Regions from separate parts of the Homo sapiens genome. Here regions 1 and 2 are each linked to region 3. The links come from fine-mapping of genetic effects on gene expression. A gene starts in region 3. Each other region holds a variant in brackets. All regions are shown on one strand. Distances are between the middles of the regions. Region 1 has its middle 50 kb from the start of SNORD93. Region 2 has its middle 21 kb from the start of HYCC1. Region 3 holds the start of HYCC1 (hyccin PI4KA lipid kinase complex subunit 1).

What was found. PIP is the estimated chance that this variant, and not a neighbour inherited with it, causes the effect.
Region 1: its variant is the best candidate, but not a certain one, in a credible set for the expression of HYCC1 in Th2 cells (Schmiedel 2018, PIP 0.79).
Region 2: its variant is the best candidate, but not a certain one, in a credible set for the expression of HYCC1 in blood mononuclear cells (TOPMed, PIP 0.60).

What each region holds. Positions count from the first base shown.
Region 1 is chr7:22,904,116-22,909,115 of GRCh38, reverse strand. It overlaps a transcript of HYCC1 not described here. Among named protein-coding and RNA genes, the nearest start is that of SNORD93, 50 kb to the right of the region's middle. The variant TTG/G (reference allele first, on the strand shown) is at 2,010.
Region 2 is chr7:23,031,660-23,038,736 of GRCh38, reverse strand. No RefSeq gene overlaps it. Among named protein-coding and RNA genes, the nearest start is that of HYCC1, 21 kb to the right of the region's middle. The variant G/A (reference allele first, on the strand shown) is at 4,040.
Region 3 is chr7:23,011,077-23,018,153 of GRCh38, reverse strand. It overlaps HYCC1 (hyccin PI4KA lipid kinase complex subunit 1), which reads left to right and starts at 4,024. Exons shown (of 11, transcript NM_032581.4): 1 at 4,024-4,229. RefSeq lists enhancers at 3,694-3,873, 4,034-4,223, 4,641-5,322 and a silencer at 4,414-4,683.

The sequences.
Region 1 (5,000 bases), 110 kb after region 3:
GACACAGATTCAACCCATATCAGGCAGAGCCCAGGAGAAGTCCATGTGTGGTTTCTAGTTGTCCTCTCCCAGCATGGTCATGGACCATGTTAACTTCTCCCAGCAATAATGGGAGACAGTCCACCTAGAGTATTATCAACCAGGAAAGCTCATCTGAGCCTTAATGCACAGAGTTTTTATTGGGGCTCAGTCACATCAATACAGTTGACTGCCTGCATAACTGGCTTTTAGGCTGTAGCCCCTCTGGAGGTCAAGCTGATACTGCATAGTACCAAACCCCCACAATAAATCACACTCTTAGACTACCCAGTGTGGCCCAAGGCCCCCAGGTAAACAAAGTCATTCTTATCAGTCAAGACATTTCAAGGGCTTACAGATGACCTTTTAGGAGCTGAGAGTAAAGGCCAGACCTCTCTTTGGGTACACTTAATTCTTTACTACACAAGGTATAAGGAGTCCAGTCTGACTGGAGTGCAGATTTTATTAGAGGCTGGAAAGGTGTTCAGGGTCAGATGGAGAATCACTGATGGGGTGACAAATGGAGGGGGAGTAAATGCAAGTAACAGAAGATGTAGATCAAAGATGCATGGAATTAACAGCTCTATTTGGAGAATGTGGTTTTCAACATTACCTCTCCACATAATGCCTGGAAGACCAGAATAGAGGCATAATAAAACCAAAATCACAAGCAAAAGAAATGCCAAATCGTGTCTGTGTGCTGGAACATTAGAGCATGTGTTTCACAACAGTGCCATACAAGAAAATGTAACCAAAGCAAGCTACTTAAATTGAGTATATAGTGGAAGTCAGACTAAAAAGGAATCTATGGGTACCAGGGCTCTTGTTAGCTCCTAAAATAGAAGAGCACCAACGTCTTCCAAAAGAAATTTGTCAAATGACCTTTTTACCACTCCATTGTATGGAACTATGCCTTGTGCATTTCCCTATTTTTCATCACTTAAGCTCTTCTTATGTTTTAGTCTACTAAAACAAAATTATAAACTCAGAAAATTTGGAGGCAAGAGAGGTCTTAATCCTCCTTTAAGTCCACTTTTTGCTTGAGGGCAGCCCTCAGACTGCCTGCATGAGAACCTTCTGGGAAGATTTCTCATTCCTAATAATAGATTATGGGTCAGCAAATGGGAGAGTGGGGGTGGTAGTGGGAAAGAAGCATAAAAATCTGCATATTTATTTATTTATTTTTGAGACAGGCTCTTGTTCTGTTGCTCAGGCTGGAGAGCAGTGGTGTGATCTCAGCTCACTGCAACTTCCGCCTCCCGGGTTCAAGCGATTCTCCTGCCTCAGCCTCCTGGGCAGCTGGGACTATGAGCATGCGCCACCACGCCCAGCTAACTTTTGTATTTTTTTAGTAGAGACGGGGTTTCACCATGTTGGCCAGGCTGGTCTCAAACTCCTGACATCAAGTGATCCACCCGCCTCGGCCTCCCAAAGTGCTGGGATTACAGGGGTGGGCCCCCGCACCCAGCTGAAATCTGCATTTTAATAAGCATGTCAGTCTGCATCTACCTATGAATCCTTCAAAATATTTTGCACACTTCCTTATGATTATTTGTTTAGATAAGCACCAGGAAAATATTTGGCTCATTGAAGTCTCTAATACCTAAAAGGTTCTCAATAAATGGTGTTTGAATAGTTGTTCACTCTCCTAACAGATCTCCTAGATTCCAGGGACCAGAAGGGGCTGAGGGATTCCGTGATGAGGTTGCCTGGACAGGCTAAGGTAACGTGCCAGCCAGCCTCAGCCAGTTTTTGGCTAGACCCCACCAGGTGCCAATACTTTTTTGCTTCATTGTTACCTTTGTTTCTTAATAAAGGTTTATTTTTAAAAATCCAGGCATCTTAGTTGAACTAAGTAAGGAGAAAGGGAAAGTTTTCACACCACTCCTAGATACCGTTATTCTTTTGTGAAGGCCCGAACCAGCCTGGGCCAGGTGATTGACTTGTACACTAGAAGAACCATTGCTTTTTTTTTTTTTTTTTTTTTTTTT[TTG/G]AGATAGAGTCTCACTCTGTCACCCAGGCTGGAGTGCAGTGGCACGATCTCGGCTTACTGCAACCTCTGCCTCCCAAGCTCAAGTGATTCTCCTTCCTCAGCCTCCCGAGTAGCTGGGATTACAAGTGCCCGCCCCCATGCCCAGCTAATTTTTTGTATTCCCACCTTCCAACCCCAACTTCTGCAAATGAGTGCTTCCAATCTTGGGCTTTTAATTCTTTTTCAATTTTTAATAGATGTGTAATTGTGCCCTAGATTGTACATGTATTAAAGAAACCCAGCCAGGTGTGTATTTTTCATTTTGGTAATTTGATGTCTTTAAGTCTGCATGCGTAAGTGGTTTGTCCACCTTGGCTGTAAGTCAGGCAGAATCAGGTACTAACCTTATATATTTAAAATTGTCTTTTATTAGTACTATATTACATATTTATCTTTCTTTTGTTACTTTTAATATTTTATACTAGTATATTTTATGTATATCTGAAAATGGCCTCCATTTTGTCATGTATCATTCTTTTTTTTTTTTTGAGACCGAGTCTCACTCTGTCACCCAGGCTGGATTGCAGTGGCGCGATCTTGGCTCACTGCAACCTCAGCCTCCTAGGTTCAAGTGATTCTCGTGCCTCAGCCTCCCAAGTAGCTGGGATTACACACACACGCTACCATGCTCGGCTGATTTTTGTATTTTTAGTAGACGTGGGGTTTCACCATGTTGGCCAGGCTGGTCTCGAACTCCTGAGCTCAGGTGATCCGCCTGCCTTGGTCTCCCAAAGTGCTGAGATTACAGGTTTGAGTCATGTATCATTCTTTCATAGCTGAGATAAATACACGAGTCCATTTTTTTCTAGCTTTTAGAATAGTTTTTAATGTTTAATGCCACCTCTTTAGAATAACTTTCAAATTTAATACATCAGTCAGTGGAGATGGAAATATTAATTGATCTGAGTTAGCAAGTATCAATGCTGTTCTGGAAAAAAAATTGCCGCATTCAGATGACTATATTATTATAACTACTAATCATCATCATCATTATCATTATCACCATCATGATCATCAGTAATGGCACTGTATGATAGTCTTACTAATCTTTCCAGATGAATTACACTATAAACTTGTCAAGAGGGTGGGCTGGAGACTGTAACTGGTACTTAATGTAATCTAACTTAATGAACATATTAATATTTTACTTCATCTTCTCACACAACAATAAGGCACATGTCTTCATAAATTTATTTTTCCTCTATTAGAGTTTTGTATCCTCCTGTAAATAGATTGCAAAATTATAAATTGTGTTAAAGAAATCCTCCGTAACTTAATATATTTCATTTTTATCAAACAACTTATGTAGACATAAAACATTTTATATTCTATGTGAAAAACCAGAATGCATGATGCCATGTATAAATATAACTGCATTTCAGGAAAAATTGAAAAGAATTATATAAAAATAAAAACTTACAGGATGATAATAGCACTTTTTTCCTTCTTAGCAAATTTTCTTTAATTATATTATTAAATCCTTATGAGAAGAAATTAAGTAAAGATGGTGACATGGTTTGTATATTTGTCCCCTTCAAATCGGTGGCTCATGCCTGTAATCTCAACACTTTGGGAGGCTGAGGCGGGTAGATCACTTGAGGTCAAGAGTTCAAGACTAGCCCGGCCAACAAGGAGAAACACTGTCTCTACTAAAAAAAAAAAAAAAAAAAAAAAAAAAATACAAAATTAGCCGGGTATCCTGGTGCGTGCCTCTAAATCCCAGCTACTCACTACTTGGGAGGCTGAGACAGGAGAATCGCTTGAACCTGGGAGGTGGAGGTTGCAGTGAGCCAAGATCACCACTGCACTCCAGCCTGGGCAACACAGCAACACTCTGTTTCAACAAAAAGAAAAAAAGAAAAAAGAAATGTAATCCCCAGTGTTGGAGGTGGGCCTGGTGGGTGGTGTTTGGATCACGGGGGTGGATCTGTCATGAATGGCTTAGTGCCAACCCTTTGGTGGTAAGTGAGTTCACAAAAGATCTGGTTTTTTAAAACTGTGTGGCCCCTCCCTCCTTCTCTCTCTTGTTCCCTTTCTTGCTGTGTGATACTCTACTCCCTTTCTCCTTCTACCACGATTGTAACCTCCCTGAGGCCCTCACCAGGAGTCTTGTGGATGCCAGCACCATGCTTCCTGTATAGCCTGCAGAACCATGAGCCAATTAAACCTCTTTTCTTTCTTTTTTTTTTTTTTTTGAGACAAAGTCTCCCTCTGTCACCTCAGCCTCCTGAGTAGCTGGGACTACAGGTGCATACCACCACACCTGTCTAATTTTTGGATTTTTAGTAGAGACAGGGTTTCACCATGTTGGCCAGGCTGGTCTCAAACTCCTGGCCTCAAGTGATCTGCCCACCTCGACCTCCCAAAGTGCTGTCATGAGCCACCATGCCTGGCCCTAAACCTCTTTTCTTTATAACTTACCCAGACTCAGTTATTTCTTTATAGTAATGCAAGAATGGTCTAACACAGATGGTGACTTGTATAAAATATTTTCCTTTAAAATGTGACTTATACCTTTATTCTGTTGAAAGCATGATGAATTATGTTTTACTTCACTTTGCTTTCCAGGAATAAGTGCTATGGGTTACCAAAGACATATATATATTATTATTATTATTACTTTTTTTTTTTTTTTGAGACAGAGTCTCGCTCTGTTGCCCAGGCTGGAGTGCAGTGGCACGATCTCAGCTCACTACAAGCTCCGCCTCCTGGATTCATGCCATTCTCCTGCCTCAGCCTCCCAAGTAGCTGAGACTACAGGCACCTGCCACCACGCCCGGCTAAGTTTTTGTACTTTTAGTAGAGATGGGGTTTCACTGTGTTAGCCAAGATGGTCTCGATCTCCTGACCTCGTGATCCGCCCGCCTTGGCCTTCCAAAGTGCTGGGATTACAGGCATGAGCCACCATGCCCGGCCCTAAAAACATATTTTTTTAAGGTTTCAATTACTA
Region 2 (7,077 bases), 21 kb before region 3:
AGTTATTTCTTGCCTTCTGCTAGCTTTTGAATGTGTTTGCTCTTGCTTTTCTAGTTCTTTTAATTGTGATGTGAGGGTGTCAATTTTAGATCTTTCCTGCTTTCTCTTGTGGGCATTCAGTGCTATAAATTTCCCTCTACACACTGCTTTGAATGCGTCCCAGAGATTCTGGTATGTTGTGTCTTTGTTCTCGTTGGTTTCAAAGAACATCTTTATTTCTGCCTTCATTTCGTTATGTACCCAGTAGTCATTCAGGAGCAGGTTGTTCAGTTTCCATGTAGTTGAGCGGCTTTGAGTGAGATTCTTAATCCTGAGTTCTAGTTTGATTGCACTGTGGTCTGAGAGATAGTTTGTTATAATTTCTGTTCTTTTACATTTGCTGAGGAGAGCTTTACTTCCAACTATGTGGTCAATTTTGGAATAGGTGTGGTGTGGTGCTGAAAAGAATGTATATTCTGTTGATTTGGGGTGGAGAGTTCTGTAGATGTCTATTAGGTCTTCTTGGTACAGAGCTGAGTTCAATTCCTGGGTATCCTTGTTGACTTTCTGTCTCGTTGATCTGTCTAATGTTGACAGTGGGGTGTTAAAGTCTCCCATTATTAATGTGTGGGAGTCTAAGTCTCTTTGTAGGTCACTCAGGACTTGCTTTATGAATCTGGGTGCTCCTGTATTGGGTGCATATATATTTAGGATAGTTAGCTCCTCTTGTTGAATTGATCCCTTTACCATTATGTAATGGCCTTCTTTGTCTCTTTTGATCTTTGTTGGTTTAAAGTCTGTTTTATCAGAGACTAGGATTGCAACCCCTGCCTTTTTTTGTTTTCCATTTGCTTGGTAGATCTTCCTCCATCCTTTTATTTTGAGCCTATGTGTGTCTCTGCATGTGAGATGGGTTTCCTGAATACAGCACACTGATGGGTCTTGAGTCTTTATCCAACTTGCCAGTCTGTGTCTTTTAATTGGAGCATTTAGTCCATTTACATTTAAAGTTAATATTGTTATGTGTGAATTTGATCCTGTCATGATGATGTTAGCTGATGATTTTGCTCGTTAGTTGATGCAGTTTCTTCCTAGTCTCGATGGTCTTTACATTTTGGCATGATTTTGCAGCGGCTGGTACCGGTTGTTCCTTTCCATGTTTAGCGCTTCCTTCAGGAGCTCTTTTAGGGCAGGCCTAGTGGTGACAAAATCTCTCGGCATTTGCTTGTCTGTAAAGTATTTTATTTCTCCTTCACTTATGAAGCTTAGTTTGGCTGGATATGAAACTCTGGGTTGAAAATTCTTTTCTTTAAGAATGTTGAATATTGGCCCCCACTCTCTTCTGGCTTGTAGGGTTTCTGCCGAGAGATCCGCTGTTAGTCTGATGGGCTTCCCTTTGAGGGTAACCCGACCTTTCTCTCTGGCTGCCCTTAACATTTTTTCCTTCATTTCAACTTTGGTGAATCTGACAATTATGTGTCTTGGAGTTGCTCTTCTCGAGGAGTATCTTTGTGGCGTTCTCTGTATTTCCTGAATCTGAACGTTGGCCTGCCTTGCTAGATTGGGGAAGTTCTCCTGGATAATATCCTGTAGAGTGTTTTCCAACTTGGTTCCATTCTCCGCATCACTTTCAGGTACACCAATCAGACGTAGATTTGGTCTCTTCACATAGTCCCATATTTCTTGGAGGCTTTGCTCATTTCTTTTTATTCTTTTTTCTCTAACCTTCCCTTCTTGCTTCATTTCATTCATTTCATCTTCCATTGCTGATACCCTTTCTTCCAGTTGATCACATCGGCTCCTGAGGCTTCTGCATTCTTCACGTAGTTCTCGAGCCTTGGTTTTCAGCTCCATCAGCTCCTTTAAGCACTTCTCTGTATTGGTTATTCTAGTTATACATTCTTCTAAATTTTTTTCAAAGTTTTCAACTTCTTTGCCTTTGGTTTGAATGTCCTCCCGTAGCTCAGAGTAATTTGATCGTCTGAAGCCTTCTTCTCTCAGCTCGTCAAAGTCATTCTCCATCCAGCTTTGTTCCGTTGCTGGTGAGGAACTGCGTTCCTTTGGAGGAGGAGGGGCGCTCTGCGTTTTAGAGTTTCCAGTTTTTCTGTTCTGTTTTTTCCCCATCTTTGTGGTTTTATCTACTTTTGGTCTTTGATGATGGTGATGTACAGATGGGTTTTCGGTGTGGATGTCCTTTCTGTTTGTTAGTTTTCCTTCTAACAGACAGGACCCTCACCTGCAGGTCTGTTGGAATACCCTGCCGTGTGAGGTGTCAGTGTGCCCCTGCTGGGGGGTGCCTCCCAGTTAGGCTGCTCGGGGGTCAGGGGTCAGGGACCCACTTGAGGAGGCAGTCTGCCCATTCTCAGATCTCCAGCTGCGTGCTAGGAGAACCACTGCTCTCTTCAAAGCTGTCAGACAGGGACATTTAAGTCTGCAGAGGTTACTGCTGCCTTTTTGTCTGTCTGTGCCCTGCCCCCAGAGGTGGAGCCTACAGAGGCAGGCAGGCCTCCTTGAGCTGTGGTGGGCTCCACCCAGTTCGAGCTTCCCGGCTGCTTTGTTTACCTAAGCAAGCCTGGGCAATGGCGGGCGCCCCTCCCCCAGCCTCGCTGCCGCCTTGCAGTTTGATCTCAGACTGCTGTGCTAGCAATCAGCGAGATTCCGGGGGCGTAGGACCCTCCGAGCCAGGTGTGGGATATAGTCTCGTGGTGCGCCGTTTTTTAAGCCAGTCTGAAAAGCGCAATATTCGGGTGGGAGTGACCCGATTTTCCAGGTGCGTCCGTCACCCCTTTCTTTGACTCGGAAAGGGAACTCCCTGACCCCTTGCGCTTCCCAGGTGAGGCAATGCCTCGCCCTGCTTTGGCTCACGCCCGGTGCGCGCACCCACTGGCCTGCGCCCACTGTCTGGCACTCCCTAGTGAGATGAACCCGGTACCTCAGATGGAAATGCAGAAATCACCCGTCTTCTGCGTCGCTCACGCTGGGAGCTGTAGACCGGAGCTGTTCCTATTCAGCCATCTTGGCTCTATTTCCGTGCCACATTTTCTTAAACCAGTCTATCATTGATGGACATTTGGGGTGGTTCCAAGTCTTTGCTATTGTGAATAGTGCTGCAATAAACATACATGTGTATGTGTCTTTATAGCAGCATGATTTATAATCCTTTGGCTATATACCCAGTAATGGGATGGCTGGGTCAAACGGTATTTCTAGTTCTAGATCCTTGAGGAATCGCCACGCTGTCTTCCACAATGGTTGAACTAGTTTACAGCCCCACCAACAGTGTAAAAGTGTTCCTATTTCTCCACATCTTGTCCAGCACCTGTTGTTTCCTGACTTTTTAATGATCACCATTCTCACTGGTGTGGGATGGTATCTCATTGTGGTTTTGATTTGCATTTCTCTGATGGCCAGTGATGATGAGCATTTTTTCATGTGTCTGTTGGCTGCATAAATGTCTTCTTTTGAGAAGTGTCTGTTCATATCCTTGGCCCACTTTTTGATGAAGTTGTTTGTTTTTTTCTTGTAAATTTGTTTGAGTTCTTTGTAGATTCTGGATATTAGCCCTTTGTCAGATGAGTAGGTTGCGAAAATTTTCTCCCATGTTGTAGGTTGCCTGTTCACTCTGATGGTAGTTTCTTTTGCTGTGCAGAAGCTCTTTAGTTTAATTAGATCCCATTTGTCAATTTTGGCTTTTGCTGCCATTGCTTTTGGTGTTTTAGACATGAAGTCCTTGCCCATGGCTATGTCCTGAATGGTAATAGCTAGGTTTTCTTCTAGAGTTTTTATGGTTTCAGGTCTAACATTTAAGTCTTTAATCCATCTTGAATTAATTTTTGTATAAGGTATAAGGAAGGGATCCAATTTTAGGTTTCTACCTATGGCTAGCCAGTTTTCCCAGCACCATTTATTAAATAGGGAATCCTTTCCCCATTTCTTGTTGTTGTCAGGTTTGTCAAAGATCAGATGGTTGTAGATGTGTGGTATTATTTCTGAGGGCTCTGTTCTGTTCCATTGGTCTATATCTCTGTTTTGGTACCAGTACCATGCTATTTTGGTTACT[G/A]TAGCCTTGTAGTATAGTTTGAAGTCAGGTAGCATGATGCCTCCAGCTTTGTTCTTTTGGCTTAGGATTGTCTTGGCAATGCAGGCTCTTTTTTGGTTCTATATGAACTTTAAAGTAGTTTTTTCCAATGCTGTTAAGAAAGTCATTGGTAGTTTTATGGGGATGGCATTGAATCTTTAAATTACCTTGGACAGTATGGCCATTTTCACAATATTGATTCTTCCTATCCATGAGCATGGAATGTTCTTCTATTTGTTTGTATCCTCTTTTATTTCGTTGAACAGTGGTTTGTAGTTCTCCTTGAAGAGATCCTTCACGTCCCTTGTAAGTTGGATTCCTAGGTATTTTATTCTCTTTGAAGCAGTTATGAATGGGAGTTCACTAATGATTTGGCTCTCTGTTTGTCTATTATTGGTGTATAAGAATGCTTGTGATTTTTGCACATTGATTTTTTTGTATCCTGAGACTTTGCTGAAGTTGCTTGTCAGCTTAAGGAGATTTTGGGCTGAGACTATGGGGTTTTCTAAATATACAATCATGGTGTTGACCCAAAATTTTAAATAGAGCTTCTTTTCCTTAACTAATTGCAAATCAGAAAATCTTAAAATCTCCTTAGGACCTGTAAGCCCCCACATCAAGATGTTCTATCCTTTTTACGTCAAACCAATATATAACCTTCATATATTAATTTATAATTGTTGCCTATAACTTCTGGTTTCCTGAAATTTACCCCTGCCTTTAAAAACTCTTAACCTGTGGCTAGGCGTGGTGGCTCATGCCTATAATCCCAGCACTTTGGGAGGCCAAGGCGGGCGGATCACGAGGTCAGGGGATCGAGATCATCCTGGCTAACACAGTGAAACCCTGTCTCTACTAAAAATACAAAAATTAGCTGGTGTGGTGGTGCACGTCTGTATTCCCAGCTACTCAGGAGGCTGACGCAGGAGAATCGCTTGAACCGGGGAGGTGGGGGTTGCAGTGAGCCGAAATCATGCCACTGCATTCCAGCCTGGGTGACAGAGTGAGACTCCATCTCAAAAACAAACAAGCAAACAAACAAAAACCCTTACTTGCAAGCCACTGGGGAGACAGGGTCTTAAGTGTGAGTTGCCTGATTCTCCTTGCTTGGTGCCCCGCAAATAAACATCCTTTGTCTGGCTACAAACCTTGGTATAGATTTTTGGCCTTACTGTGCCAGGCTAGTGGACCCCAGTTCGTTTCAATTACAACTGCTTCAAAAACAAATTAAAGACTTAATGAGCCCAGAATTTGAATGTAGATCTATGAGATTAAAATGTCACATGATTAAAAATATAAGAGCTGCATCTATTTATTTTCTACACAACACCAAGTCATGCCTGGATGTCAAAATCCATTTAATGGTGCTCAAGTTTTTGAAGCAGGTAATGCTTGTCTCTAATGCCCTCCCTCTCCCTTTAGTTCTTTCCCAGATCCACTGTGGCTGGGGTCCATGTTTCCCTGTCTTCCTAGAGTTCCCTTCTAGAACACTTATTTAGGACTGGTCCGACTCCAAATTCACACCTTCTCCAAAATTGGTCATTCTCTACCTCACCCTCCAACCAAAACCCCTTTCTCTCAGGATAAGCTAACGTAGTGGAAAGCTTATGTTCTCTGGAGCCCAAAAAGTATGGGGTGGAATCTCTTCTCCACCGCTGTGTGACCTTGATCAAGTTGGTTAACTTCTCTAAGCATCGGTTTACTGACTTGTAAAATAATAAAATTACCCATCCAGGTGCGGTGGCTCACGCCTGTAATCCCAGCATTTTGGGAGGCCGAGGAGGGAGAATCACGAGGTCAAGAGATCGAGACCATCCTGGCTAACCAACATGGTGAAATCCCTTCTCTACTAAAAATACAAAAATTAGCTGGGCATAGTGGCGCACAACTGTAGTCCCAGCTACTTGGGAGGCTGAGGCAGGAGAATTGCTTGAACCCAGAAGGCAGAGGTTGCAGTGAGCCGAGATCGCTCCACTGCACCCCAGCCCGGGTGACAGAGAGAGACTCCGTCTCAAAAAAAAAAAAAAAAAAATTACCCATGGGGTTGTTAAAAGGCATAGAAGCATTTATGCATCCTGCAGCTTTTAGCCACCTGCATCCAAGCTCTCTTTTGTATGATGATCACAAAGATGAATCAAAGTTCCAGACCCTGAATGGGGACCCAGTACATAAAAAAACCAGTGGTTGAGCCTCAGGGGTGGCCAAAGAGACAACCAGCTATCAGCCAGCCTTTTCCTCTTTTGTTTTGTTTTCAACAAAAAACAAGATTCATATGCCAATTGCCCACAACCACTTCCCAAAATCACCAAAGCAAAGTTGTCAAAACTATGCTCCTTCACTCCACACATTCCTTTCAGGCCATAGGTTGCCCTTTCATAACTGGGTATCCCTTTTCAGATCCCTTGAGATATTTGTTGAGACCTGATTTGGAGACAGGGGTACAGCAGATAAGAGAGTGGGAGCACACTGTAAAGTTTGCTTCATTTTTCAACCATTAGAAAAGGCTCTGCTTAGGCCGGGCGCGGTGGCTTACGCCTGTAATTCCAGCACTTTGGGAGGCCGAGGCGGGTGGATTGCCTGAGGTCGGGAGGGAGTTCTAGACCAGCCTGACCAACATGGAGAAACCTCGTCTCTACTAAAAAAAATACAAGGCTGGGCGCGGTGGCTCATGCCTGTAATCCCAGTACTTGGGAGGCCGAGGCGGGCGGATCACGAGGTCAGGAGATCGAGACCATCCTGGCTAACACGGTGAAACCCCATCTCTACTAAAAATACAAAAAAAAAAAAAAAAAAAAAATTAGCCGTGTGTGGTGGTGGGCGCCTGTAGTCCCAGCTGCTTGGGAGGCTGATGCAGGAGAATGGTGTGAACCCGGGAGGCAGAGCTTGCAGTGAGCCGAGATTGCGCCACTGCACTCCAGCCTGGGCGACAGAGTGAGACTCTGTCTCAAAAAACAAACAAAAAAATTAGCCCGTTGTGCTGGCGCATGCCTATAATCCCAGCTACTTGGGAGGCTGAGGCA
Region 3 (7,077 bases):
TGTAGCCCCAGCAAGTCAGGAGGCTAAGGTACGAGAATCGCTTGAACCCAGGAGGTGGAGGTTGCAGTGAGCTAAGATGGTGCCACTGCACTCCAGCCTGGGTGACAGAATCAGACTCTGTCTCAAAAACAAAACGAAACAAAGAAAGGAAAAGAAAAAGAAAAAAAGAGAAAGATATTTGAACTAAATTTTTCTTAAAATTCCTGAAATTTAATGTCATAGGGAAAATGTTTATGTTTATAATGTTCAACTGGCACTTTTATACAGTTATTTGCAAGAAGATAAATGCATTTTAATAGTTACTTTAGAATTATGCGTGTGGATATCAGAGACTAGCAAAGATGAGCAGGAAAGATCTGGAATATGTTGACTTTTATAAAGTAGGTTAAAAGCATTTTCCTTTTGAAACAGAATGTTCTCTTAGGCATTTTTTCTGGTGCTTTGCGATTAAAATATAAACGGCTATGTGTAAAACTTAACTGCAGACTGTTATTGTTGGAAATTATTTTTATATGCACAAATTGTGATGGAAAGGAGAGTAGACTGGAAACATAAATTTGTGCTTTCGTTTTACTCTGACTTAGAGGGAAGACAACTTAAATTGCCTTCTATACTACCTTACCACTGCAAAATGGGAAGTGAAGTCAGGCAGTAAACTGCTTCCTGTCTTCTTGCAGGAAGGAAACAAATTATATATAAATATACATAGCCAAACTTCAGTTTCTCTCCACTCAATCTATCCTATGCACGGCACTGATTTGGCACTAGTAACATGTTATATTATTTCCCTTTTGTCAACCTTGGGTGTATATTAGAACCACTTGGGAAGCTTTTTTAAAAACCCAATGACTAGCCTCACACACCAATTTATTTATTTATTTACTGTGGGGTGCGGTTTGAGTACTGATAATTTTGAAAGGCATCCTAAGTGATTCTAATGAGCAGACAGGAAGCCACAAGGCAAAAGGAGAAAATCTGAACAACTGAGCTTGCCTTCAAGGTGTTCTATTATCTATCTGCAACCTAGCTTGCCAGGCTTGGCTGACTCAAGTTGCCTCCCATGCCCTCTGAACATTGCTTGTGCTTCCCCTCTTGTGTTATTTCTCCAGGCATTCTGGGAGTTACTTTCTCACCATTTTATCTGGTTCAAATTCCTCCCCAGTTTTCTAGACCCAGCCCATTTTGCCTTTTTCATGAAGCCTTCCCTGACTGCCCTTGACTGCAGTGCTTGCATCCTCCTCTGAAAACACAGCGGCTAATGCCTAGAAAATCATTTGAACAATGAATCGATTATGTACTGCCTTATGTAATCTCTCCACTGCTGCATTAAATAATTACTTTAATCTTTGCTTAACCTTTCATCTGTTTGTTATGCAGCTAACTATACTATAAGCAAGCTTCTAGCATTCATCTGTATCCTTGACAAGCCACGTGCCTTGTACAGTACAGGAAGTCAATAATATTTACCTGTCCCTTCCATCCTGACTTCCACAGGTTTGGTTCGAGATTCTCTCCTGGAATCTTGTCCTGGTCTTGGCTGGGCTTCCTGCCACCAGAAACTTTGGCTCTTCAAATCAGGTCAACACATTACTGGCACACATGGCCAATGGCCAGTAAAACTGATGGTGTGTGTGTGTGTGTGTGTGTGTGTGTGCATGCGCGTAGGTGTGCACTCTTTTGCCCACTCTTGTTTCTCTCTATCTTATGATCTGGCTGACTCGGTTTCTTTCCTTCCTTGGTCCCTCACTCTCCTACTCAATGGGACTTGACGGCAGAATTCAACGTCTCAGGTTTTGACTGCTTGTGTTCTCTAAGATGAATAACATGCTGCCTGGATCTTCCTCTCCCTATTTCTTTGAGTAAACACTTGTCCTGAACAGGCTCTGGCCAAGGGGACCTAAATTAAGTCAGTCTGATCTGTCAAGAATTTCCTCTCTACCCTGTTTTTTTTTCTTTGGATTCTCACCATTTAAAAGAAACCTGATTGCATTGTCCACATGATTAAAAGCTGTTGTCTGTCCCTCATTGCCTTAAGAAGAAAATCTAAACCTGAGCTATCCAATATGGGAGTTGTTAAAGTTAAAATTAAAAATTAATGCCAGACATGGTGGTTCACACCTGTAATCCCAGCACTTTGGGAGGCTGAGGTGGGTGGAGCACCTGAGGTCAGGAGTTCGAGACCAGCCTGGCCAACATGGTGAACCCCTGTCTCTACAAAAAATACAAAAATTAGCTGGGTGTGGTGGTGAGTTCATGTAACCCCAGCTACTCAGGAGGCTGAGGCAGGAGAATTGCTTGAACCTGGGAAGTGGAAGTGCAGTGAGGTAAGATCCCACCACTGTACTCCAGCCTGGGTGACAGAGGGAGACTCTGCCAAAAAAAAAAAAAATTAAAAATTGAGTTTCAGCCGTGTATGGTAGTTCATGTCTGTAATCCCAGCACTTTGGGAGGCTGAGGTGGGAGGATCACTTAAGCACTCTACCCCAGTTTGGGTGACAGAGTGAGACCTTGTCTCAAAAATAAATAAATAAATAAATAAATACATTGAGCTCTTCAGTCACACCACATTTCAAGTATTTGATAGCCACATGTGGCTAATGGCTACTATTTTGGACAACACAAATATAGAACATTTTCACCAGTGCAGAAAGCTCTGCTGGACAGTGCTTGTCTGAATATCTTAGTGTAGCTTGTGAGGTCTTTTACAATCTCACCTCAACCTTTTGCTCCAGCCCAATTTTTGGCCGTTCCTCATCATTTAACCCCATCTACCTTCTCAACATTCCACAATGGCTCTGTGCCCTTTCACAGCTCCATGCCTTTGAACATGGTGTTCTCCCTTTCTGAAATACCCTTTGACTTTCTTCTCTGGCAAACTCCCATTTACCTTTTAAGATCCAACTCAAACATTACCTTCCTTGTGGAGTTCGCTGACTTTCCTAAACAGTCATTTCTTGTCCTCTGTTTCCATTGCTCATTGAACCAATCTCTATTGTCCTTATCACTGTAGTTTGTTATTATTTACTCATTAATCTGATCCTCCCTTTGGAGGGGGATCCTATCTGTTTTAGCAATCTGCCCTAATAATTACCTGAAATTGTTTGCTTGATACCCTTTTGATATCAAGTAATATATCTTCTTATTTATGTGCTTGTTATTTATGAGTTCAGCATGTTTGAAAAGTTCACTTAGTGTTTCTGGAGAAATCCTGCCCATTTCTAGTGTAAAGCTAGAATGAACTTCCTGTCTTCTAGGGTGGAGGTCAGTTTTTCTTCTAATTAATCCTGACCAGTCTTGAGAAGGATGTGGTAGGAGAGGTTTACAAGGTCAAAAACAGCAGTACTGTCTGCAGGCGCAGGTTCAGGTGTTCTCGGGTTCCAGTTATTATACAAAACATTTAGTATATGTTCAGAGAAAAAGTAGGGAGGAATGATGGAAAAAATAAAAACAACCCCCATGGAAAGAAAACTGAGGCATCGTATTTGACTTTTTCCAGGCTAAGCCCAAAAGCAATGATGTAGTGAGGGGGAAGTTTGTATTTCCATTTTGCAAAAACGTAATTTTTTTTTCCTCCCGGGATTTGATAAGATTTTGATAAATTCTTGTGAATTTAATTACAGGGAAGTAAATCCTACTGACTAGTAAATTATCAATTTGTTTCTCTTTTCTCACAAAAGAGAAACAAATTGATACCCTTCACATCATCCGGTAAGGTTTATTTTTTTCTGAGAAGGCCATAAGCCCTAACGGCTCAGAATCTAAGAGACCTTCGCTGATTGTCATCGCCTAGCGGCCACCGCAAACCTTACAGTCAATCAACTTCCCTCGGACGCCCGGATCACGCCCATTGCTCAGACCACGCCCACTCAAGGCGCCTCATGGCTCCGCCCCAGGCCCAGCAGAAGAAGATTCTCATTGGTGGAGAAGTTGTTCTGATCCCGCCCCGGAGGACGGCGATAGGCTGAACTGGCGTGGGGCGGTGGTGGTTGGCTGCTTGAGGACGGGTCCCTGGTCGTGCCTGTCAGAGAGGCTGGCGGCAGTGGTGGCTCTCCCGGCTGGGTTGTCAGTCAGTGAGAGGAGGGGGAAGATGGCTCACCGGGACCCGTTCTGCTAGGAAGAAGGGGAGCAGGTGGTGCTGCTACTCGGGAGGAAGCAGAGCAGCCTCCGTCGCTGTCGCTGAGAGCCTCACGAGTCGAGGTCCTGCAGGTGGAGCTCCGGCAGCCGCCCTGGTGAGTCCAGCCGAGAGACCCACGCCGGGCCCCCAGGGCGTCCGGCAACGGATAACTTTTTTTTGTCAGGGAGGAGCCGGGGCGAGGCGGCGGCGAGGACAGGACCGGGACTTTGTCCCTGGGGCCGCGGCTCCACTGGGGGTAACGGCTCCCGCGCGAGGCGCCATGGGTGGGTGCGAGGCGGCGCGGGGCGCTGGGGGCGGCTGGCGGGCGGGTGGGCTGCGGCCGGCGCTGCTCGCCCCGAAGTTGGGCGCAGCCTGCCCGCTGCCTGGAGGGCGGCAGCTTTGTGCGCGCGACTCGGGTCTTTCCTTCCCGGCGAGGAGCAGTCCAGCCTCCTGCTGTGACCCGGGTGCCGCCGCCTCGGCCCCACCGGCCGCCCCTCTGCCGGGTGGGCCTGGGGCGGGAGCCCCCCGTCCCCTCCCTGCCGCGGCGGATGCTCTGGCCTCTGCCTCCTCTCCCACTCGCGCCCTCTACTTCGGCGAGGCCGCCACTGTCCGTCCGGTCTGGTGGCCACAATGGTCACTGTCGACCCCCCGCCCTCGCCCCCTGGAGAGCAGCGTTGGCCCGAGTCGGTCTTTGGTCCCCTGCAGGGCGGAGAGGTTCAGACAGCAGCCACGCTTCCTTCCTTGGTTATTTCGCTGAAGATCTCTTCTTGAGCCCTTGCCCCTTCTTTCTATGAGTTATTCCTCTCCTGAGGCTCATTTTAACATACTCGGGAATCCTCGGGGGTTTGGCTGAAAATGGTTGCATTAAAACACCCCCAAGTTTGTACGCTTCCCCGAAATTTGCTGTCTGCCCGTCAGCTTGCACATGTGTGCTTTGTGAGTTTAGACATTCCTGAAAGATTTTAATTTTGCCTAAGTGGTTTAGTACTGCACAGAATCTGCTCTCTGAGAAATACACTATCACAAGCCTGGCAGCCGCGGCGCTCTTCAGGTAGGGGGAATTTGTTCCACCGGCAGCTACTTCTTATCTCAGAGACTGCCCTACAGGCAGTAGGGCCAAGCTGACCTTTTGCAAATTATTTATCCTTGGATCACACAGTAGTTTTTGGAGCAGGTGGGCCACCTCTTTGGTTCATGTAACACTTTACAGTTTGAGGTTTTCAGCTTTCAAATCTTATTGCCATAAAGTCAGAAAGACTGGGAGGCTTGTTTTCCATGAAAACATTCTACTGCTAACATCCACAGGCACCCCACCTCCCCCGACATTTCCAAGTATTTTTTTTTCTTTAGGTGAATACATTTTAAGGTTTACAGGATGAATAGTAGTCTAAACCACCATATTTTTGAAGTGCAGGCAAAGACAAGGAAGGAAAAACATTTAAGATCTGCTTGGCCAATAGTGGCTTCAAAGTCAGCTATTCAAATAATCAGTTCAATCAAACCAAGTGGCAAGGGGGAAAAGCATCACATATTTAGGAAACAAATTCTGGATTTGGCTCGTTTATCCTTATTCGATTTATTGAAATTACCATGAGGGATTAGAAGGATTAGAAACCTTCTTAGTCATCGGCATTAGCAGTACCTGGATACAGACACCCGATAAGGCATTAGCTGGGTCAGCGTTTATCCTTGCTCTGCTTCCTTTCATTGTTGTATTTCTGTTTTATGAAATTTGCTCTGGGTTGTATTTTTTAGACTGGTGTCTTTGACGGTGAGTTTAAATATATGTACTGTTTTATTCAGCATCCTGTTGCCTAATATTTATTTTATAATGGATCTTAAGAAATTTTAAGAAATCTTAGTATTCAAGACCTATTTTGGGGTATCGTTTATATTTTATAAATGATTGAAATTATATCAAACATAAATTTATTTTTTCACTCTTCCAGGCTGAGTAGGTACTAGGGATACAGAAATGAATGTCATAGCTCTTGTCTTCAAGGAATTTACTATCTAACATACAAGATGTTAGTAACATTACAGTAAATTAACAATTATAATACTATGTAGTCAGTGGGAATAGAGATATGCCTAGTGTAGTAGGAGAGTTTAGAGTAGGAGATAGTTAACTTGCCTTGAGTGTAGGTGGAGTTGGGAGCACACAGCCAAGTTGTGAAGGATGATATGATTTTGCCAAGTGCAGGAGGTAAGTAACTTCCCAAGAGGAGGATATAGTAATTGAGAAGGCAAGGAGGCCTGAGAAACTGTGGCAATTTAGATAAGTCATTGACAATGACGAGTCAGTGTCAATTGACATTGGCAGTTGACAAAGTCAATAACATTGACATTGATATGGCTTGAATGCAGGGGTTAGTAGGAAATGGTGCCAGATGAAGATAGTGAGGGTGGTAGAGGGCCAGATCAGGGAATGGTATCCTTAGCTAAAGGGATTGGATTGAACGTGATAGATGAGAAGCCATTTATTGGATTTGTATTTTAGACCTTTACTGTGGCAGAGTGAGGGAAAAACTAACAAGTCCTAATCACCTATGAGAAGAAAGGAGGACTCAGGACTGTGAAGGTTTGACTTGGGGTTCTGTTGATGGAAATGAGGAACACAAAAATGGAAGGAAGATGATAAATTCTGTTTTGGCTATTTTGAATTTGAGGAAGCAGTGGAACTTCAGGCGAAGATATAGATAGATGTTTGTATCTGTGGATGTGAAAATCAGGATTAGAGAGATGATTGGGGGTTGAATTGAAGCTATATTGATTTAGTTGTGATGAAATGACTCAGGGAAAGCCTTTAGCCTGGTGAAAGTGGCAGCCAGAGAACAGACTCTCATAAATAGCAGAAGTAGGAAGAAGAATTGTCTGAAAGTTAGAGGAATAGTAGCTAGCAAGGTAGGAGGACCATCAGGAAAGATGCCAAGGGCGGGGAGATTTTCCAGTGGAGGAGGAAC